Linked DNA regions of Homo sapiens. The protein of the gene in region 1 interacts with the protein of each later gene in a pairwise test. Each region holds a gene or a part of one and is shown in the gene's direction. Other genes may lie near its edges.

What was found.
Region 2: the proteins of ZNF775 (region 1) and MAPK6 interact in a two-hybrid assay, tested with the Homo sapiens proteins (one large-scale study listed by BioGRID and IntAct).
Region 3: the proteins of ZNF775 (region 1) and FES interact in a two-hybrid assay, tested with the Homo sapiens proteins (one large-scale study listed by BioGRID and IntAct).
Region 4: the proteins of ZNF775 (region 1) and RPS6KA5 interact in a two-hybrid assay, tested with the Homo sapiens proteins (one large-scale study listed by BioGRID and IntAct).

What each region holds. Positions count from the first base shown.
Region 1 is NC_000007.14:150,377,407-150,383,143, forward strand, and holds the start of ZNF775 (zinc finger protein 775), read left to right. Parts: upstream 1-1,923; 5' UTR 1,924-1,986; exon of another isoform or gene 1,987-5,417; intron 5,418-5,737. UniProt on the Homo sapiens protein: May be involved in transcriptional regulation.
Region 2 is NC_000015.10:52,063,052-52,068,490, forward strand, and holds the end of MAPK6 (mitogen-activated protein kinase 6), read left to right. Parts: intron 1-850; coding exon 851-1,949; 3' UTR 1,950-4,324; downstream 4,325-5,439. UniProt on the Homo sapiens protein: Atypical MAPK protein. Phosphorylates microtubule-associated protein 2 (MAP2) and MAPKAPK5.
Region 3 is NC_000015.10:90,887,504-90,892,785, forward strand, and holds part of FES (tyrosine-protein kinase Fes/Fps), read left to right. Parts: intron 1-1,802; coding exon 1,803-1,940; intron 1,941-2,013; coding exon 2,014-2,133; intron 2,134-2,336; coding exon 2,337-2,459; intron 2,460-2,588; coding exon 2,589-2,775; intron 2,776-2,862; coding exon of another isoform or gene 2,863-2,897; coding exon 2,898-2,981; intron 2,982-3,478; coding exon 3,479-3,688; intron 3,689-4,050; coding exon 4,051-4,173; intron 4,174-4,554; coding exon 4,555-4,608; intron 4,609-5,203; coding exon 5,204-5,282. UniProt on the Homo sapiens protein: Tyrosine-protein kinase that acts downstream of cell surface receptors and plays a role in the regulation of the actin cytoskeleton, microtubule assembly, cell attachment and cell spreading.
Region 4 is NC_000014.9:90,895,420-90,900,701, reverse strand, and holds part of RPS6KA5 (ribosomal protein S6 kinase alpha-5), read left to right. Parts: coding exon 1-91; intron 92-460; coding exon 461-594; intron 595-1,279; coding exon 1,280-1,373; intron 1,374-5,282. UniProt on the Homo sapiens protein: Serine/threonine-protein kinase that is required for the mitogen or stress-induced phosphorylation of the transcription factors CREB1 and ATF1 and for the regulation of the transcription factors RELA, STAT3 and ETV1/ER81, and that contributes to gene activation by histone phosphorylation and functions in the regulation of inflammatory genes.

The sequences.
Region 1 (5,737 bases):
TAACGTTTTGTGACTCTTATTTGGGTACTATTGTTTAAACTATTACTACTTTCTTGCTTAGCAGGTCATTCATTCACTTCCCTAATTGCTGGTTGCAGGGCTAGCTAGGTGCCTGGAATTTCCCTTGAAGGGACTCAAATGTTTCTTTATTTTCGTGCATTGAATGGGGGGCTGGTGGCAGACCCCTAAGAGAGGTTCCTGCTCTGTCTCAACACTTGTAGCCAGTGGCAAATCTGGAACTAGAATACTGGTCTCAGCAACAGGAATGTATTCCACAAGCCTTCGTAGAACCTCTTCTAGGTACTCTTCTAGAAAATAAGCTAGGTGTGGTGGTGCATGCCAGTAGTCTCAGGTGTAGTTCAGGTGGGAGGATCCCTTGAGGCCAGGAGTTTGAGGCTGAAGTGCGTTATGATTGTGCCTGTGAATAGCCACTGTACTTTAACCTGGGAAACATAGCAAGACCCCGTCTTTAAAAAAATAAACAGGAGAATGAGACTCCAAAGTGTTGATAGCTAGTGATGTGTGGCCTCTTTATAGGGTGTGTATGATTTTGTATTTTACAAATCCTTCTATAGATAATATAACCAAATTAACGGTAAAAACTCAGTAAGGTATGCAGGCAACTAGAAAATTATTAACCCTATTTTATAGACGAATAAGTCAAAGTCCAGAAACAGAAAAGTATCTTTTATAAAAAGTACACATGAAGTTAGTGACAAAATCGAATCTCAGTCCCCAGTTCCTGCTGTGCTACTGAGGCTAAACCGCAGCCGGGCCTGTGGCAAATGTTTAATCAGCTGTTGACTGAAGAAAATAAGGTCCGCCTGCCCAACAGCAACCGTTTGTAGAGTCTCAGAGGCCCAGCTTCTGTCTGTATCTACCTCATGCCCCAGAGGCAGCTTCTAGCAGCTCCGGAGAGCATCCTGCCAGTGGGAGTTGACCCAGCTGCGCCCCCTTTGAGGGAGAAGTGTGAGGAATTTCCTTACAATGGGGTGGGGAGTTGCGAAGATACTCCTTCCTGAAGGTCTGGCAGTCTGGACCGGGGTGGCAACTGGGCGGAGATGATTCCGCTCACGGGAACCCTACCTAGTAACCCGACCTAGTAACGTAACCTCAGAGCCGTTCCTCAGCTAGAAAACAAAGGGATTAGGCCGGGCGCGGGTTTGTAATCCCAGCACTTTGGGAGGCCGAGGCCGCAGGGTCACTTAAGCTCAAGAGTTCGAGACCAGCCTGGGCAACATGGCGAGACCCCCATCTCTACAAAATATTTAAAAAGTTAGCAGGTTGGGAGGTTCGGTTGAGCCACGGGTTCGAGGTTGCACTGAGCCATGATCGCGCCACTGGGGTCTGAGCGAGACCACCTCCCTGAAACAGAAAACGAAGGGGTCGGGTATAATGATTTCTAAGGTCCCTCGTAGTGAACCCTAAAAGTTATCACACCCCACGGTGGGGCTATCGCGGCTTGAGGGCAGCCACAGCCTCAGCCGGGGTTTCTGTCCGGGCCCTGATGGGTCCCCAGCAGGGAGAAACAGCGTCCGGCGCGCTGTGGCGCTCGGCGAACGTGCGCTGAGTTCAGGCGTTACAACGGGGTCGCACGCGGAGTCCAGGCCTGGCAGGGGTGCCAGGACGCCGCCGGCCATCTGGGGCCCGACCTCCCAAGGTCTCCTCCCCGCGGCCGGCGGCTAGCGCGCTCACGGCGCCCGGGCCTTGCGCGCCCGCCGGGGGCGAGGTCAGCCCTCCCCCCTCGGCTATTGGCTCCAGAGAACAAAGGAGCCGCCCCGCGGGCTGCTCCGATAGGGCCGGGCGGGTCATCTGAGCGGCGCAGCCAATGGAGTGGCTGGGCGGCCCCGGGGATGGCCAGGCCCGCCAGCCAATCAGGCACCCGTGCCCGCCCCGCCTGCCCCGGGAATGGCCAGGGCCGGGAGCCCGGTGCCCAAGTCGCCCTCGGGGTGGCAGTTCCCGTTAACCTTAGCCACAAAGTCAAAGGTATTTATTTCCCCGTCGCCTCCCTCCGAGTCCCTCTGCATTTTGGGCGGGGAGGGGCGGTGCGAGGGATGGACCAGCGCCCGGCCCCGCTCCTCCCGTGCTGCCTCCGCCCGGCCCGGGCTGGGGCGGAGGGATGGGGCGGGGGCCTGGGGTGCCCCGAGCCCCGCGCGCCCCCCGAGCCCCGGGTCTCAAGCGTTCCCTCTGCCCCGACACAGCCGAGGGGAAAGGGGCGCGGCCGAGGGTGGGGAGGGCGCCAGGCCAGGGCAGCGAGGTTAGGAGGGAGGCTAGTGAGAATGGAGGGAGGACGCGGTGGCGAGTAGAGGGGTCGCCCGCGGGCGGTCTCTCCTGGGCTGTCCCGTTGTTCCGAGTTCCCCGTCCCTGTTCGCCTCCCTGATAGATCAGTTTCTGGGGGCAGGAACCCCAATGCTCGCTGCAGAGTGACAGACACATAGTAGGTGACCAATAAATGTGTGATTAAACGAGCGGGGATAAGGATTGGGGGTGGAGATAAGTGAGAGGGAAGCACCGCAGAAGTTGGAAGTGTGTGGTGTCGGGTGTGGCGGAGAACTCCTCTCTAGGAAGATGGGCACAGCAGCCGCGAACTCGGTGGGGCGGGGTGCGGGCATCCCCTCTGTGAAGAACGTTGAGGATATCTACATGTGGAAGGTGTGGAGATGGGTCCTCCTTCGGCCCTTTGAGCAAGATGATCTGAGCTGGGGCTGGGTGTGGTCAGAGCCCCAGGGGTTGGAGGCGGACGACAGCCCAAGGCTTCACAGCTAACTGTTCCCATGTTCATCTGTAAAATGAAGAGATTAGATGGCAGTTGTCTCCTTTCAGCTTGAAGGTTCATGCTTCCGTGCTTCAAATCTGTTTTGTACTGAAATTTCTTTTATTTAAGTGTTCCCTTATGACAGTTTTTATTAATGGATTACTGTGTGTGGAGCCTGTACTGGGTGCAGGGGAGAGAGAAGGACCCTGTGTTAAGATGCATGTAGTCTTGTGCAGACTAACAAATTGATGACAATGATGATTCCATGTAGATGGTCCTAGGTGCACAGGTTAAACAGAGAAGGGATTCCTGGCTGTGCCTGGTGTGTCCAAAAAGGCTTCCTGGTCAAAGCGATCCCTAATCTGGGCTGGGAAGGGGAGAACTGAGCAAGGGCCTTCCAAGGTTGGTCACAGGGTGCGAGGACACGGTGAGTTCAAGAGCCACGAGAGGATGGGGCGTGTCGGGGTGCAATGGGGAAAGATGAGCAGAGTTGAGTTCTCAGTTCCCTCTTATCCGAGGTGTGCGTGCCAGCAAGTCCATTTGGTGGGGGTCTGGGTTTCTGAAAAACAACTCAAGGACATATGCTAAGATGTTACCTTTAGTTTCTTTAGGCAACCACACGTTTCGTGTGGTCTGACTTCCTTGCTATTATTTTAGCTACGATTACCTTCTTATCAGGTTGCACATTTACTTCTCAGGACCAGCTAGGTGCCTGGAATTTCCCTGGAAAGAACTCAAGATTTTCCTTTATTTTCATGATTGGAGGGCACAGCAGGTGCCTGAAGGGGTCCCTGCTCCATCTCACTTTGCTTTCCCAAGGTCCTTTGAATGCAGCAAGGGATGCAAACGTGTTTATTAATTAAAATGTGACACCTCTTCAGAGATTGTTAGCAGCTGGGTTTATCCTCGGCCTTCAGCTCAGATGCAGGCCCTGACAGGTTCCTGAATATTAGAATTGGGGCCGAGGAATGTAAGTGCAGCTCTCGCCTCTGAAGGGAGGTGGGTGAGGAGGAGGGGGCCAGGGGTGTGGCGCAGGGGAGGTGTGGGTGGGACAGTTCCAGCAAGCGTGTTTACCTCTGGCCGGTGAAGGAAGTCTTGGAAGGAGGTACCTCAGGATCATGGCTGGGGTTGAATTGGGGACCTCTGGGAGGTGGGCAGGCATAGTGGATAAGGCAAGTGACCTGCTTGCATGCAGATCAGGTCTCCTGGGAATGTCGAGGGGAGCAAACTGAAGCCATGAAACCAGGCTGGCTGTTCATACCCTGAGGTACAGTTCTTATAACCCTGAGTGGGGAGCGGGTGATGGCAACAGCAACGACCTAAATCGAATTTGTCTTGCACCTTGGGAATGTCTCTCAGAGTCCTCTCACACTGTTTGCGTCCCGCCATCCCCACCCCCCACCGCCCCCGCCCCACTTGATATAACAATTCTGTACCACGAGCAAGCGTTATTTCCATTTTCAGGTGGGGAAACTGAGGCCCAGAGAAGGAAAGTGGTTTGCCTGGGATCATGTGGCTAACCAGAAGCAAACCCAATCTCAGTCCCTGTCTGGGGCCTCTCAGCGGCTTTTTCCACTATGGCCTGTTCTTTGGGTTGGACAGTGGCCCGCCCTTTCCCTTGGCTCCCCTCCTCTGTTCCCTCCCCAGATTGAGGACTGGGGTGTTTGGGAGACTGAGGTCTGAAGATGGTGGAGTAGGAAGAGGGGAAGGGTCAGGGCTGGGAGAGTGGTCACAGTGGGGGTGGCCTTGTGCTGAGTGGGATCCGGGAAGTTGGAGAGGAGCAGGGTGGGTCATGGGGGGTGGGACAGGGGAGTTGTGGGAGGCTTCAGGGTGCCTGATGCTGGGTGTGGGGATGGAGGCCTCCAGGTGGGGGAGGGGATGCCCACCTGGTTTGGGCTGGGACCTCTGGGAGGGGCATGCAGAACCACCCTGGTAAGTGGAGGGCTCTGCAGACAGTGCCACAACCAGAGCCGTGGCAAACCCTCTTCCTCCTGCATGGTGGAGCGTGGAGGCTCCTGTGTGGCGCTGGGGGCCTCTGAGATTCCCAACTGGCTGGAAGGAGTGATGGCTTAGGAGGAGTGAGTGGCAGCGGGGACGCTGGCAGAGAGGCTTGTACAGATACTGCCCGATGCATCCGGCTCAGGCTTGCCGCCCTGTGGTGCTCCTCCCAAACTCAGGGAGCAGGTATTTCCGTTCACCTGCGCCTTCAAGAACCTGAGCTCAAAGCGCTGCAATGACTGGCCAGGGACTAGCAGCGGCTCAGTGGTGGGTGGGCTGGGACTTGGGGTTCTTGATTAAGACATGGGGTCCTGAGGGGAGGGACCAGGAAGGGTGGCCTTGAGAAGGACATCCCTGCCAGCCTCAGGCAGTGGGCTTCTAGGGGGAGACTAGGGCTGAGGAGCCAGCCAGGTGGCGGCTGAGGGTCACCCAAAGATGGCTGAAGGGGAGAGGGCCCGCTGCATCCCCTTGGGCCAGAGCCCACAGGCCAGGCCCTGAGGATCTTAGGCTGCACCAGGCTTGCCGGACACAGGCTCATTGTCTCTAGGGCTTTCTGTCTTGCTGTAACGTCTCTCCAGCCAGCTGCAGCTCCTGCTGACTTATCCCACCCCAGCGCAGGTCATCCAACGGTGACTTATGGCCCCGGCCTCCTGGCTCGATGAGGGTATGTTGCTTCTGTTTCTACCTCTCTGAGTTCTTTTCCTCGGAGCAAGTGACCCTGATGGGATGGCCATGGGTGTACAAGGATACTTGTGTCATGGGTGGCTTTGCAGTTCTGTGTTCCTAAGTGTGCTGTGCAGTGATTCGTGCTGCCCTGGTTCACAGTGGCACGTTTGTGTGTCTGTGGATCTGTAGGTGTGTCTGTGAGTTTTAAAAAATATCTCACATTCTCTGTATTTGCATAGACAGTTTTGCAGGTGTTCTCACGTAGTTTTGTGTCTTTGAACTTTTGTTTACTTAGCTGTATTTAGATATGATTGTATC
Region 2 (5,439 bases), on another chromosome or scaffold:
TTTCTACCCCCTAAATAATGGTTCTTTTCTTTTTTGAGACGGAGTCTCACTCTGTTGCCAGGCTGGAGTGCAATGGTGCCCATCTCTCTGCTCACTGCAACCTCCTGAGTTCAAGCAGTTCTCCTGCCTCAGCCTCCCTACTAGCTGGGACTATAGGCACCCGCCACCATGTTCAGCTAATTTTTGTATTTTTAGTAGTGGGGGTTTCACCATGTTGGCCAGGCTGGTTTCAAACTCCTGACCTCAAGTGATCCATCCACCTTGGCCTTCTTGAAGTGCTAGCATTGCAGGCCTGAGCCACTGCACCTGACCTGCATTTTCTATTTTACCTAGCTAAGTTATCTAATCTCTTTTCTTTTCCCTCAATGATTATACATGTCAGTAATAGGATAGCGCATTCAGCAGCACGTATACACAGGGAGATTTTTGCTATTCATGGTGATGAGTTTTCCAGCAAACCTCCTCCTCTTCTAGTTGCCCTTACTGTAGAGTAAACATTTAGCAAACCTCCTCCTCTTCTAGTTGCCCTTACTGTAGAGTAAACATTTGTAAGGTACCTGATTGAGATTTGAGATCTGCATTTTGTGGCTATGAAGTCTTTTGTTTGCATGGAACTGGTGGACAAAAAACAAATTGGAAATGAAGTTACATACTGCATTGGCAATTACCAAATATATTAACAGAGCTTTCCTATCAAGACTAAGTTCTGGTAGGGCAAGGCAGGCATATTTACTCTCCTATAATTATCCCCTCATAGACCTAGCACAGTGCTGTCACATAGAAGGTACTCGGTGAATTTGAAAATGAAATCATATACGTAGAATAACGCTAGTGTATTGATTTTTTTCAGGTATCATGATTGTCAGTTTTCAGAGCATGATTGGCCTGTACATAACAACTTTGATATTGATGAAGTTCAGCTTGATCCAAGAGCTCTGTCCGATGTCACTGATGAAGAAGAAGTACAAGTTGATCCCCGAAAATATTTGGATGGAGATCGGGAAAAGTATCTGGAGGATCCTGCTTTTGATACCAATTACTCTACTGAGCCTTGTTGGCAATACTCAGATCATCATGAAAACAAATATTGTGATCTGGAGTGTAGCCATACTTGTAACTACAAAACGAGGTCATCATCATATTTAGATAACTTAGTTTGGAGAGAGAGTGAAGTTAACCATTACTATGAACCCAAGCTTATTATAGATCTTTCCAATTGGAAAGAACAAAGCAAAGAAAAATCTGATAAGAAAGGCAAATCAAAATGTGAAAGGAATGGATTGGTTAAAGCCCAGATAGCGCTAGAGGAAGCATCACAGCAACTGGCTGGAAAAGAAAGGGAAAAGAATCAGGGATTTGATTTTGATTCCTTTATTGCAGGAACTATTCAGCTTAGTTCCCAGCATGAGCCTACTGATGTTGTTGATAAATTAAATGACTTGAATAGCTCAGTGTCCCAACTAGAATTGAAAAGTTTGATATCAAAGTCAGTAAGCCAAGAAAAACAGGAAAAAGGAATGGCAAATCTGGCTCAATTAGAAGCCTTGTACCAGTCTTCTTGGGACAGCCAGTTTGTGAGTGGTGGGGAGGACTGTTTTTTCATAAATCAGTTTTGTGAGGTAAGGAAGGATGAACAAGTTGAGAAGGAAAACACTTACACTAGTTACTTGGACAAGTTCTTTAGCAGGAAAGAAGATACTGAAATGCTAGAAACTGAGCCAGTAGAGGATGGGAAGCTTGGGGAGAGAGGACATGAGGAAGGATTTCTGAACAACAGTGGGGAGTTCCTCTTTAACAAGCAGCTCGAGTCCATAGGCATCCCACAGTTTCACAGTCCAGTTGGGTCACCACTTAAGTCAATACAGGCCACATTAACACCTTCTGCTATGAAATCTTCCCCTCAAATTCCTCATCAAACATACAGCAGCATTCTGAAACATCTGAACTAAAACACTCAGCAGACATTTATCTTTGTATTCTTCATGAAATGTGTTTTGTCTTTTTTTATTACTAGTGTTTAAGTCATTTTTTACTTGAATCAGATGGTGTCATTTAGTAAGGATTTTATGAGTTCTTGTTTTTTAAAATCCAGACTTTCTTTTTCTACATGTGAGATAGTTTTCATTTTAACTGGCATGTCATTTGCACACAAAAATAAAGACTAGAGCAAAATAATGCAACGCAGGAGGAGAAAAGAAATGCACTAAGACAAGAACATTCTCTCATAGAACATTGATCTGTTTTACAGGAAACAAACCTTGCCTTGAAATTTACACAGTGAGACTGTACATAATTGCATGAAAATAGCTATTTTTTTCCTAAGACATTTTTCATTCATGAATATTTTCAAGTTTTTCATACTGTACACATTTCTTAAAACACATGATACCAGCAGCAACTGAAAATGAATGCCGAATTTGGTACACATGTGTTATCTACCTCAAGGTAACAAGAGTATGTGGCAAAACATATACCACCCATAGTGCTTCACAAAATGCACTTCTATTTAGCCAGCGTTTATTGTAGTAAACTATTCTTAATAAAACTCACTCACTGTTTATAAATGTTCTGGTATGCATTCTTTATAGTGAAGTGTTAATACATCACATCTTATTTATTTTAGCAAATCAGTATATTTTCTGTATTTAATTATAAAAAATTAACTTAGTTTTTAAAATTTATTTGCAAATATACTTTACTTTTTCCATTTGGCACTATGGTTTGTTGCCTACCTAGCTGCATCTATAATGTCAGCTTATCCTAAGGCTGTCCACGTACTTAATTTACTTAAGTGTTCATTTTAAGTAACGTGCTCACTGTGTATAGGAATTTGTATTTTGGAGGTGCTTGATCTATCTACAAAGAAAAATTAATTAGGAATTACTTTATTATAAAATGCTCCTAGAAGTCTTAATTGTGTTTATTTTTTAAAAAAACAAATGTTAGACTTGTGTGCATGGAAGTAATTAAGGTACATCATTATTGTAGTTTGAAAGTTGTACATGATAAGACATTTTGTTTTTACTGTATGTTTTTACTGAATGATCTATTCCCCATCCCAAGGCAAGCATGAATAAAATTAGGTTAAACGTAGCATGTGGCATCGCAGTCTCTTAGAATTTGTTTCATCTATTTTATTTTATTGAATACTGTCTGTATCTTTGGTTATCCTGTTTGAAGAAAAAGGACAAATAAAACATGGCCAGCAAATACAGCTCCTGTTTCACTCTTGGGTTAATGAAAATTTTCTGCTAGAATGAAAATTACTACCAGAATCACTTTGAATTATGGCCATAAATTGCTAGTCTGAAAGGCTGAGAAGGTTCAAGTCTTTTGACTTAAACCATCACATATTAGAATGGAATAAAGCTTTATAATATTTCAAAACTGTTAGGTAAAATGTGTAGTTGAAACTTTGAACTGTGCAGTCAGAAAACTTGAGATTTGCTCTGTAATACATCTTTGCGTAAGAACTTACCCTTTTACCTATCCAGCTACAAAACCATCCTCTTCACCTCACTTTTCTTTCATCCTTGTTTTGTACAACACCAATTCTATTAATATCTGCCCACCTACCTTCTCAACAACTCCATCCTCTTCACCTCACTTTTCTTTCATCCTTGTTTTGTACAACACCAATTCTATTAATATCTGCCCACCTACCTTCTCAACAACTGACTTCATCTGGATTCACAAAGCCATATATATACACGTGTGTGTGTGTGTGTGTGTGTGTGTGTGTATATATATTCATTTATTTATTTTCTGGTTGAATACTGTCACGTTATTAATTTAAACATACTCAAATTACCTTAAGAGGACAAGCTCTGAAGTGCAGTCATGAGAATTGATTTGTGGGGAAAAAAAAAATGGGACACTTTTAGTTGGAGCTGGGTGGGGTGACAAGTGCAGAGGCTTTGAGTGTCATGAGAGCATCAGACAGGATGTAAAGGAAGCAACGGGCAGCAGACATTGGTCCCTGATCCTCCATTATAACCAATTTTTTGCAAACGTATGTTGATTTTGAGAATAATTAGCTTTGACTCTAAAATGCTGTCTTCCCTGAAGGAGACCTAGGATTTTTCTTACTGGGAAACTTGGCTCCTGGACTTAATCCACATTCGTTAAACTGTCACCTTGGCAGTTTAGTGGCCATCTACACAATGATCTGACTTGTTGGCATTAAAAAGTCCAAACATAGTCATCAAAGGAAGAAGAAAGTAAAACTGAAACCCCTTATATAAAATATGCTTGCTTTAGGGTGACCCAGGCTGAGTACTAAGTTGTAAAGTCAATTTCCAATAAAAATTTTATGTGCCAATTACTTTGTCTCCACTTGCAATCAAAGTATCTTTATAGGGTAATGAAGATGAAATACTCCAAGAGGCAAAGTCTTTCTTTCTCTGCCACCCAGGCTGAAGTGCAGTGGTGTGATCACAGCTCACTGCAACCTTGAACCTAGGCTCAAGTGATCCTCCCACCTCAACCTCTTGAGTACCTAGGAGTAGCTGGCACCTTTGTTAAAGATCATTTGACCATATAGATGAGAATTTATTTCTGGGTTCTCTACTCTGTCTCTTGTCACAGTTTTTGACTGTTTTTTTCCTTTGAGACAGGGTCTTACTCTCTGGCCCAGGCTGCAGTACAGTGACATGATCATAGCTCACTGCAACCTTGACTTCCCAGGCTCAGGCAATCCTGCCTCAGCCTCCTGAGTAGCTGGAGCCACAGGCATGAATCAACATGCCCAGCTAGTTTTTACATTTTTTATAGTACTTTTAAAATTTGTTTATAGAGACAGGGTCTCCCCCATGTCACCCAGGCTGGTCTTGAACCCCTGGGCTCAAGCAATCTTCCTCAGCCTCCCAATGTGCTGGAATTACAGGTGTGAGCCATTGTGCCTGGCGGTAAAGCATTTTTTTCTGACATGAGTATGGCCACCCCTGCTCTATTTTATCATTTGCCTGATAGCTTTAGTTTTAATTGCTACACCACAACGTATTTCTTAAATGACATCTTCCAAAATTTTGCTTCTACCAACATCTTTGCAGTGAGAATTCTTGTGAACATGTGTAAGAGTGTCTTTAGGGCAGATACATAGGAGTAGAGTTGCTACATATCTTCAAGTCTATGAAGATGCCATGTCCCTGTCCAAAAGTGATTGTACTGACTCACATTCCTGCCAGCAATGCACAAGAGTTCTTATTCATCCACATGCCTCCAAGCAAGAAACCAAGTTTCTTCCATTGAATTAATCCTACCAGCTTTGCAATGTTCAGTTTACAGTAGGAATCAGGATTTCTAATTCCAAACAACTGCATGGCTGGAAATCATGACTACACCTTAGGGATCCTTAAGTAGCCACTTCAATGTGAGATTGCCTTGTTTCTCATTTCCTATTGCTCCAGCCACTGCAGCTTGGGAACAGAGGCTTTAAAT
Region 3 (5,282 bases), on another chromosome or scaffold:
GGGCCAAGGATTGGAAACAGGCAACTTACCTCTGAATTACACTATTCCAGGGTCTCATTATTCCAGGGTTTTATTACATTCATTGAGCACTGTTCTGGGCTCTGGATTATACCAGAGAACGATGGTAGACAAAAACATCTGTCCTCAGGGATCTTTCGTGTTAGTGGAGTGAGGATGTGAGGAGCACTAAGAGCCATGGAGAAAAATAAAGCAAGAGAAGTGGATCGGGACCTGGGAGCACGGAGGCAAGGGAGGAGGTGACAGTTGTCCATAGAGTGATCTGGGAAAGCCTCTTGAGAGGTGACATTCAAAGAGGCCCCTGAGAGGGGTACGGGAGTGAATCATGGGGCTATTTGGAGAAAGACCATTCCAGAAAGGAGGACAGCAATTACACAGGCCTTGAGGTAGGAGAGTACCAGGGACTAATAGCCAGGAACCAGTGGTGCCTCTGAGAGTGAGGGAGGGGGAGAGTCATACACGAGGCTGGAGGAGGCAGGCGTCAAGGGCTACTGGGTGATAGAGGGTCTAGCAGGGCCATGGTGAGGACTTTGGCTCTGGGTGAACAAGAATGGCATGATCTGACCTCTGTTTTTTTGTTTCATTTTGTTTTAACTTTTTTTGAGTCAGAGTCTCGCTCTGCCGCCCAGGCTAGAGTGCAGTGGCATGATCTCGGCTTACTGCAACCTCCGCCTCCCAGGTTCAAGTGATTCCCCTGCCTCAGCCTCCCGAGTAGCTGGAACTACGGGCATGCGCCACCACACCCAGCTAATTTTTGTATTTTTAGTAGAGATGGGGTTTCACCATGTTGCCCAGGCTAGTCTCTAATTCCTGGGCTCAAAGCGATTTGCCTGCCTCTGCCTCCCAAAGTGCCGGGATTACAGGCATGAGCCACCATGCCCAGCCCTGACCTCTGTTTTAATAAGGCCACTCTGGCTGCTGTGCTGCAAATAGACTTCAGGGAGCAAGGACAGAAGCTGGGAGGCCAGAGAGCAGGCTCTTGCCATAATCCAGATCCAAGCTTTTGGCCACTAGGACGGGGAGGTAGCAATGGAGGTGAGGCGCGGTCAGGTCCTGGAAGGTGAAGCCAGTGGGATTTCCCTATGGATTGGAAGTGGGGCGTGAAATAGAGGAGTCAGGGGTCACTCTGGGGATTTGGCCTGGAGCAGCTGGAAGATGGAGTGGCTGTTAACTTATGTAGGGAAGGCTGTGGGAAGAAGAGGTTTAGGAGACAAGGATAGCAGTTCATTTATTTATTTATTTATTTATTTATTTATTTATTTATTTATTTATTTAGAGATGTAGTCTCATTCTTTCGCCAGGCTGGAGTGCAGTGGCGCGATCTTGGCTCACTGCAACCTCCACCTCCCAGGCTCAAGCGATTCTCTTGCCTCAGCCTCCCGAGTAGCCAAGTAGCTGGGACTACAGGCATGTGCCACCATGCCTGGCTAATTTTTGTATTTGCTTTTTCAGTAGAGATGGGGTTTCACCACGTTAGCCAGGCTGGTCTCGAACTGACCTCAGGCAATCCACCCGCCTCGACCTCCCAGTGTTGGTATTATAGGCGTGAGCCACTGTGCCTGGCCCACTGGATCCTTATTACAACTGCCAGTGTCCCTCTTATATATATCAGGAAATAGAAGATTAGGGAGAGGTTAAATAATTTGCCTAGAGTGGCATGGCTAGCTCGAAGTGAGGCAGGGGTCAACCCCAGCCCTGACTCCAAACCCAGGGTCCTAGGCCTGAACTGCCCAGCCTTGCCCAGCCTGAGGCTCCCCTGACTGGGGATCCCGTCTCGGGGGCAGGAAGGAGATCCTGCAGGAATACCTGGAGATTAGCAGCCTGGTGCAGGATGAGGTGGTGGCCATTCACCGGGAGATGGCTGCAGCTGCTGCCCGCATCCAGCCTGAGGCTGAGTACCAAGGCTTCCTGCGACAGTATGGGTAAGCCCCGTCCTTGCTCCTGCTGGGCCCAGGGCTGCTGGCCTGTCCACTGACGGGGCGCTGTCCCCCACAGGTCCGCACCTGACGTCCCACCCTGTGTCACGTTCGATGAGTCACTGCTTGAGGAGGGTGAACCGCTGGAGCCTGGGGAGCTCCAGCTGAACGAGCTGACTGTGGAGAGCGTGCAGCACACGTGGGTGGTGGCTTTGCACCTGGGCTGCGGCGGGGCTCCCAGCAGACCACGAGTGTTTATGTAGGCAGGGCTAGGTCGTGGAGACTGTCCACACAGAGCTGTCACCAGGTGGCCGGGCTTGCTTGGCTCTACAGGGATGCACTGGACCTGGGTTGAGGGGGCAGGAGGGCTCGGTTCTAATGCTGCCCTTCTCTTGGGTGCAGGCTGACCTCAGTGACAGATGAGCTGGCTGTGGCCACCGAGATGGTGTTCAGGCGGCAGGAGATGGTTACGCAGCTGCAACAGGAGCTCCGGAATGAAGAGGAGAACACCCACCCCCGGGAGCGGTGAGTGGGCCCCTGCCTGCAGCAGCCTCCTGGGCCTCCCTCCCTCCTACCTACCCTAACTGCTGCTGGCTACCCGCCGCAGACCGAGCCCTTATTCTCATCCACCCTCCCACCCGCCCCTGCCTGCAGGGTGCAGCTGCTGGGCAAGAGGCAAGTGCTGCAAGAAGCACTGCAGGGGCTGCAGGTAGCGCTGTGCAGCCAGGCCAAGCTGCAGGCCCAGCAGGAGTTGCTGCAGACCAAGCTGGAGCACCTGGGCCCCGGCGAGCCCCCGCCTGTGCTGCTCCTGCAGGATGACCGCCACTCCACGTCGTCCTCGGTGAGCTGCCCCATCCGCGGCCGCTGCCCGCCACCGGCCTGCCCACCTGGGGCTGCGCTCCTCATTTTCGCCCTCCCCCTCCCTAAGCCTGGCCACCCGCTGACGTCTGTCCCTGGCCTCAGGAGCAGGAGCGAGAGGGGGGAAGGACACCCACGCTGGAGATCCTTAAGAGCCACATCTCAGGAATCTTCCGCCCCAAGTTCTCGGTGAGTGGCGCCCAGCCTGGGCCCCCCTACTGTTGTGTTTCGAGTTTAATCACTGGGATGTCCTAGAGAGGAGGCTCTGCCCAGGCTGCTTGTATTGGGAAGTTCCTCTCTTCCCTGGGATTCCAGGCTGCAGATGTCCCCAGACCCTGCCCCTGTGACCCCTCCCTTTCCATCGCCCCAGTGTGCTAAAGGGACCAGCAACCTCGACTATTCCATGGCTCTCCCTGCTTCAGGAGCGGGTTGGGGGCCTGTGGCCTGGAGGAGGAGGCACCAGCTTGGTTTGGGGTCTTCCTGCCTGGGCTTCCCTTCCCAGCTCTGCCCAGCGTGAGCCTGGGCCAGTCCAGTGCCCACTCCAGGGGCCTGTGGATGGCTCTGCATGCCACTCCATGGTTGTAAGGGCTGAGGGCATATAGGGGGGAGAGAGAGACCCCCGGCTGCCCCCACGGCCTCTTCAACAAGGTGGTTAAGTGACTCCTCCTCGATCCTCCCTTGCCCAGCTCCCTCCACCGCTGCAGCTCATTCCGGAGGTGCAGAAGCCCCTGCATGAGCAGCTGTGGTACCACGGGGCCATCCCGAGGGCAGAGGTGGCTGAGCTGCTGGTGCACTCTGGGGACTTCCTGGTGCGGGAGAGCCAGGGCAAGCAGGAGTACGTGCTGTCGGTGCTGTGGGATGGTCTGCCCCGGCACTTCATCATCCAGTCCTTGGATGTGAGTGGGGCTGGGACCCGAGCCTTCCAGGCCTCACTCTTCCCCTCCCTTCCCTTCCCCAAGGGAAATGGCCTTTCAGGGTAGGGGGTAGCTGCCAGGTCTTGGATGCCTCCCTAGCAGGGCTGGCTGGAAGGGGCCACAGAGACCACCCTGTCCCTGCAACAAAATAGAGGCTTAAGTGTGAGTCCTCCCCTGGTGGGGCAGCAGGATGTCATGTGCCATCAGATGGCATCTTTTCTGGAGGTCTCTCTGCCCCTGGTCCTGGGCAGGCCCTTTCTCCCCTGCTGCTCTCCCTTTCCCCCTCCCAGGGCTCACGCCCCCTCAGAATGGAGGCTGCTGACCCCGGGTCCCCTGCCCTGCAGAACCTGTACCGACTGGAAGGGGAAGGCTTTCCTAGCATTCCTTTGCTCATCGACCACCTACTGAGCACCCAGCAGCCCCTCACCAAGAAGAGTGGTGTTGTCCTGCACAGGGCTGTGCCCAAGGTGAGCCTGCACCCAGCCTGGCCCATGCCACCTGTGGCAGGGCTTGGGGAGTGTGGGTCAGGCCCACCCAGCGTCTGAGCAGAAAGGGCTTTCCAGGCCCTCCGTCTACATACAAGATGCAGAGTGAGTGACCCTCAGGGCCAGCCTTGCTCTAGGTTTGGAATGTCAGGGCCACTCCTATGCCATGGGCTGTACACACCAGGTTGGTGCTTACCTGGTCAGGGCACCTGCCTGGACCCCGTAGTCATCTCAGTGTGCTCCCCACGTGGTCCCACCCCTGGTCACATATGGAGGCGCCAAAAAATGGAGGACACAGCCCTTCTAAGGGCCCAGCACCCCTTTTCTTCAGACTTCTGATCCCCTGTCTCCTCTCTTCCCCAGGACAAGTGGGTGCTGAACCATGAGGACCTGGTGTTGGGTGAGCAGATTGGACGGGTGAGTGCGCCTCTGCTGGCCTCCTTGTCGCTGGCGACTTCTCCTGAGTCGCGCCTGGGCCCCCTGCCCTACCACCCAGAGACCTCCCTGCCCCATCTGATTCCCCACTTGTACCCCGACTCCCTGCCCAGCCCCCACCACACACCATCCTCCAGGAAACGGGACAGTACCTACCCTGAAAACTCCCAGCAGACAGCTCTGCCAGCACCCTGACCTCATCACCCCCACCCAGGCCGCCCCCATCGAGCTCTTGTGTGCACGCAGGGAGACACCCTGTTACTGTAAGCCATAAGATACCTGTTTAGGGAAGAAGTCACTGTCCTAAAAATCAGAATGCTTTTCAAACCCAAGGGAGAGTGATTTTTGGATTTCCATGTCACTTCTCTCAGGAAGGGTGGCACATCGGAGGCAACTTTCCCTGCCTGCCCCATGTGCTCTCTAGGTTCCCCAGCGAGGGTCAAACTCCCAGAGAGCCTGGGTGAGGGGTCCGAACACGGGGGCCCCTCACCCAGGGGTAGGAAGCAGAATGGGTAGGAAGCGGAGAAGAGAACTGCGGGACTGGGAAGGCCGTGGTAGGAGCCCAAGACCGTTTCAGGGGAACTTTGGCGAAGTGTTCAGCGGACGCCTGCGAGCCGACAACACCCTGGTGGCGGTGAAGTCTTGTCGAGAGACGC
Region 4 (5,282 bases), on another chromosome or scaffold:
GCGTAATGCAGCTGTCATAGACCCTCTTCAGTTTCACATGGGAGTTGAACGTCCTGGAGTGACAAATGTTGCCAGGAGTGCAATGATGAAGGTATATAGATGTGGTAACTTATATGACATATTTGTAGGTTTTGTGAGTGTTTAAATACCAACTCTAATTAATGTTCTTAAGTCTAGTAATTCAACTAAAGTGCAATTTTAAAAGTGGGATATAGCAATATTTTCCCTAGAGAATTAACGTCAAGTTGAATGAACTTCTTTTTACAATTATAGAGAATTATGTATCTTAAATAATTATTTAGATGAAAATAGAAGTTACCTATAAAGATGAATTTTAGATTATAAATGTATTCTATTCCTGTTTATTAATATTAATAATTTTATTTTACTCTACAATTTTATTGATCCTTTGTGTATTACTGACATTTTCTGAAGTTAAATGATGTTGATTTCTTGACAGGACTCTCCATTCTATCAACACTATGACCTAGATTTGAAGGACAAACCCCTGGGAGAAGGTAGTTTTTCAATTTGTCGAAAGTGTGTGCATAAAAAAAGTAACCAAGCTTTTGCAGTCAAAATAATCAGCAAAAGGTATGACCATTTTTAATATAATATTCTTTCTTAGGTATTCATGAATTCTGTAAATTAAAAGATATTTATTTTAATTGAAACCAGTATTATATTGTAAGACTTTCTTACCCAAAGGTTTAACCACTTGGCTCATCAGTTGGTCCATTATACTTTTAGCTCTAATTGATATTTTCTGATAAAGTAATCCATTTTAGACATAAATCATAGTCTTATTTGCTTTTGAGTTTATCTAGAGAAAACGTCTTTGTGACAGTGACATATTTAATCAGGCTCACATAGTGATTTTGGCAGCCATTGCCATTTCTACTAGTTGTGTATTTGAAATATTTTTCTCTAAAATTATTTAGCAAGCTACTGATAGCTTTGAGAGCCATCTAGTTGTTTTGGTAACTGATGATTATTATTAAGATTGCATATTCTTATTACTCTAAATTGTCAGGAAAGTAGAGCATTCATTTCCTCATATGATTTGTACTTTTCTGACTCAGAAATAATAATTTTCTCCAGAATATTACTTTTTCTAGTGTGTGGTATAATTCATTACTTTCATGGAAACCTCATTACAGTATACTGTAACATGTATATTCTGAATGCACTGTAAATAAGACAAAATTAGTCTTGGGGCAGTACTGATATAAAAACTTTCTTGAAGAGACATGTGGATGCTAAGTGTCTCATCTTGCAGGATGGAAGCCAATACTCAAAAGGAAATAACAGCTCTGAAACTCTGTGAAGGACACCCCAATATTGTGAAGTTGCATGAAGTTTTTCATGATCAGGTATCCTACTTTTTTTTTTTTTTTTTCCCATGTGTACTAATTCACTTACAGGGTTGTACTTTTCACGCGTTTTGTTGGTGCTGCTGGGTCAGAGTCAGGGATATAGAACATCACCCAGCCACCAGAAAGGGCAGTGAAACCACCCTCTCAAACCCCTCCCCAACCACACACTGTTTCCCAACCCCAAATCAGGTTATCCCTTCACCTCTCATGCTTTTCTCACTCAGCAGTTAACCACCTATGACAGGAAGACGGAGGGCCAGGAGCTCAGTGGTGCAGTCACTGGCTACAATGTGCTTGTTGCCAGTGCCGCTTCTACCCACCATCACTTAATCCTGGAGTACCTCTCAGGACTCAGGAATTTTGAGCCTCCAACTTCCCTTTCACTTCTAGAGTAAAACTGAGAGAGCCTGGAGCCTAATTAATGCAAGCTAAAGGACAAATAGGAAGCAGAAAGCAAAGATACTCCTTTTATCTTCTAGCTCCAGGTGGTAAATTCTGCTCAGAACCCTGGCCAGATCATGCTGCCCCCTCTTCTGCTCTCAGTCCTGCTTTGCAGCAGGAACTATGGGAGGATGCCAGTGTGTCCAGTTCGTGTCTGTTCACCTCACACATGACAGAAATTGCTCCATTACACTTCTCTGCCCCTGAGACCAGGTGGGGTGATGCAGTCCTACTTAAGACAACTTGGAGGCACAAGAGCACAAACCAATCCTGAATGTGCTTTGCCCTAATTTTACCAATAAAGAAACTGAGATTTTGAATGTTCATAAAACTTGTCTAAGGTCACATAGCATGTCAATGCGAATCTAATAAGGAGAACCTGTACTCCAGTTCTGGGCTCTCTTTGTTGTGCTGTTGTAATATCTGTGACCTAGGATCGATGGGGCCCAGTTCTCTACCACATTGAAATATCCTCGAGTGCTATTGCCAGGAATGATACATCATGGTGAGACCAGGCAGCAGCAGCAGTAGCACCATAACCATAATAGCTGCTGCCATTTATTATCACATATCTTGTGTGGTCTAGGTTCTGTACCAGGCACTCTGCATGTATTGTCTTATTCAGTCCTTACCATAGGTCCATGAGGTGAGAAAATGGACACTCATAGAAGTTAAGTAACAGGTCTTACAGTTGGTAAGTGTGGTAAGGCTGGGATCTGAATCCACACAGTCCAACTTCAGAGCCCAACAAGCTTTTATTTACTTTAAACTACTGCCTTAGGGAAGGCAGAATCACATCTGGCAGTAAGCATCCCAAAATGGCATCATCCTCTACTCACTCTTTGGTTCTTGTAGTCAGAAAAGAAATGCCACTGAAGCAAGGACTCAGGGGGAACCGCTCTCCCTGATCCTCTACCTCCTCTTGCCTCATCAAGCCACTCGACACAAGAGGAGGTAATGAGTCCCCTGGCCACGAAGGTGCTTAAGAAGAGGCTCACTAGACAGTCTCCTGTTGAAGATGATATAGAGGAAATTCACATCATTCAAGGAATCAACGGGTGATCTTAGATGCTCTCCTCTGGGTTTGCAGCTGTGCCCATAACTACATCCCAGACAAGATACTTGATCTCTGACCTTCAGACTAATGTCAGGTCCCATGAACAACATTTCTAATTTTTTATTTGTGTCACAAATTAAGTAGATGTTTTGCTATTTATATATTCAGGAGTTACTAAAATATAAATTGTCACATGATATAATCCTATACAAACTAGTATAAATACATTATCAATCTAATATGCAGTTGTAATGTATCTTGGGTTTTCTCATAATGGTGGCACAGTTGCCTAGATCATCCCTGTATCCAGTCTTTTCTTCAACTAATGGGTGAAATTGGTTATGGTGGGTCTTCAGCCTTTGTGCAATAGCATAGTTCATTTTGTGTGCCATGATATGCGTTTCACGTACTCCATGAGTTTGCTATTGCTGCTGCAACAAATCACCACAAACTTAAAACAATACAAATTTATTATCCTGCAGTCTGGAGGTCAGAAGTCCAAAATCAGGCCCATTGGCTTAAAGTCAAGCTGTCACCAGAGCTGGTTCCCTCTTGAGCAGAACCAGGTGCACAGCGGGAGGTGAGTGGCAGGTGAGCCAGCATTACTGCCTGAACTCCACCTCTTGGCAGATCAGCGACAGCCTTAGATTCTCACTGGAGTACAAACTCTATTGTGAACTGCGCATGGCGAGGGATCAAAGTTGCAGCACTCCTTATAAGAATCTAATGCCTGTCCCACCCCACTACTGCCTCCCCTCGTCCATGGAAAAATTGCCTTCCGTGAAACCATTTCCTGGTGCCAAAAAAGTTGCGGACCTGGCTCATGCCTGTAATTCCAGCACTTTGGGAAGGTGAGGCAGGTGGATCACTTGAGGTCAGGAGTTTGAGACCAGTCTGGCCAACATGGTGAGACCCTATCTCTACCAAAAAATACAAAAAATTAGTCAGGCGTGGTGTTGTGCGCCTGTAGTCCTAGCTACTCTGGAGGCTGAGGTGGGATAATCCGTTGAACTTGGGAGGCGGAGGTTGCAGTGAGCCAAGACTGCACCACTGCACTCCAGCCTGGGTGATAGAGTGAGACCCTGTCTCAAAAAAATAAGAAAACAAAAAAGAAAAAAAATGTTGAGGATCACTGCTCTGGAGGCTCTAAGGGACAACCCATTTACTTTCCTTTTGTAGCTTCTAGACACCCCCCAACATTTCCTTGGCTGTGAGCCTTCCATGCATCACTCTAAGATCTTGCCTCCAGGGTCTCATCTCATACTGCTAACTCTGATGAATAATTCAGGATAATCTCACATCTCAAGCTCCTTAATTTACTAATCACATCTCAAAAGGCCCTTTTGCCATCCTTCTAAGGTAACAACCACAGGTTCTGGGCATTAGGACATGAACAACTTTGGAGGGCCATCATTCAAGCTCTACCACGCATACATTTTCTCATTGCTATCTGCATTTTATTGATAAGGATCCTAGAATTAATAAGATAAAGTAGCATCCCAAGATCATGAATAAATAACAGAACTGACCTTCAAATCCAGGTTGAACTCTAAATCTGTTCGTACACCACTGCAAGTATTGCCTTACATCTTTTTTAAAGCTCACCAGCCTACAGTTGTAGCAGACCTGCAAGCTCAACTTTATCTGATGTAGAAACTCAAGTTAGCTTGATGTCTAGTAGGCTGGGAGCAATTTTCTTGTTAGAAGGGTTGTTCACTCTGCAATTTGTCTAATGCTTTCAGGATAATGTACTTATAATTGTCTTTTTTATGAAGCAGTTTATTCTGAGTTTTGCTAATACAGAAAGAAACATTTTGTTTGTGAAGTGATGTTGGCCTTATAATGCATAGCACCTGAATTCAGTATATTGCCATGATATCTTTTTCTAAACCATTTGTGTTCATTTGAGAGCTGATTAAGTCCTTTGCTTTTTTTCTTTTTTGAGACAGGGTCTCTGTCACCCAGGCTGGAGTGCAGTGGCACAGTGACGGCTCCCTGCAGCCTTGACCTCCCGAGCTCAAGTGATTCTCCCACCTCAGCCTCCTGAGTAGCTGGGACTGTAGGCGTGCGCCACCATGTCTGGCTAATTTTTGTTATTATTTTTTGTAGAGATGAGGTCTCACTATGTTGCCTAGGCTGGTCTTGAGCTTCTGGGCTCAAGCAGTCCTCTCACCCTGGCCTCTAAATGTGCTGGGATCTATAGCCCTTTGCTTTTTGATAATTCCTGTATTATTTTTTGGAAATTATCCATTCTGACAGAAAAGAGCCTGGGTGGAGAAGAAGAGAAAGGATGGTAAACATATAACTTACAAAGTAACTATTAAGATAATATTGTTGGGATTAAAGCAAAAACCCATAGTGAGTTATGGGTATTTGTAATGAATATTAACAGGAACCCTGAAACTAAT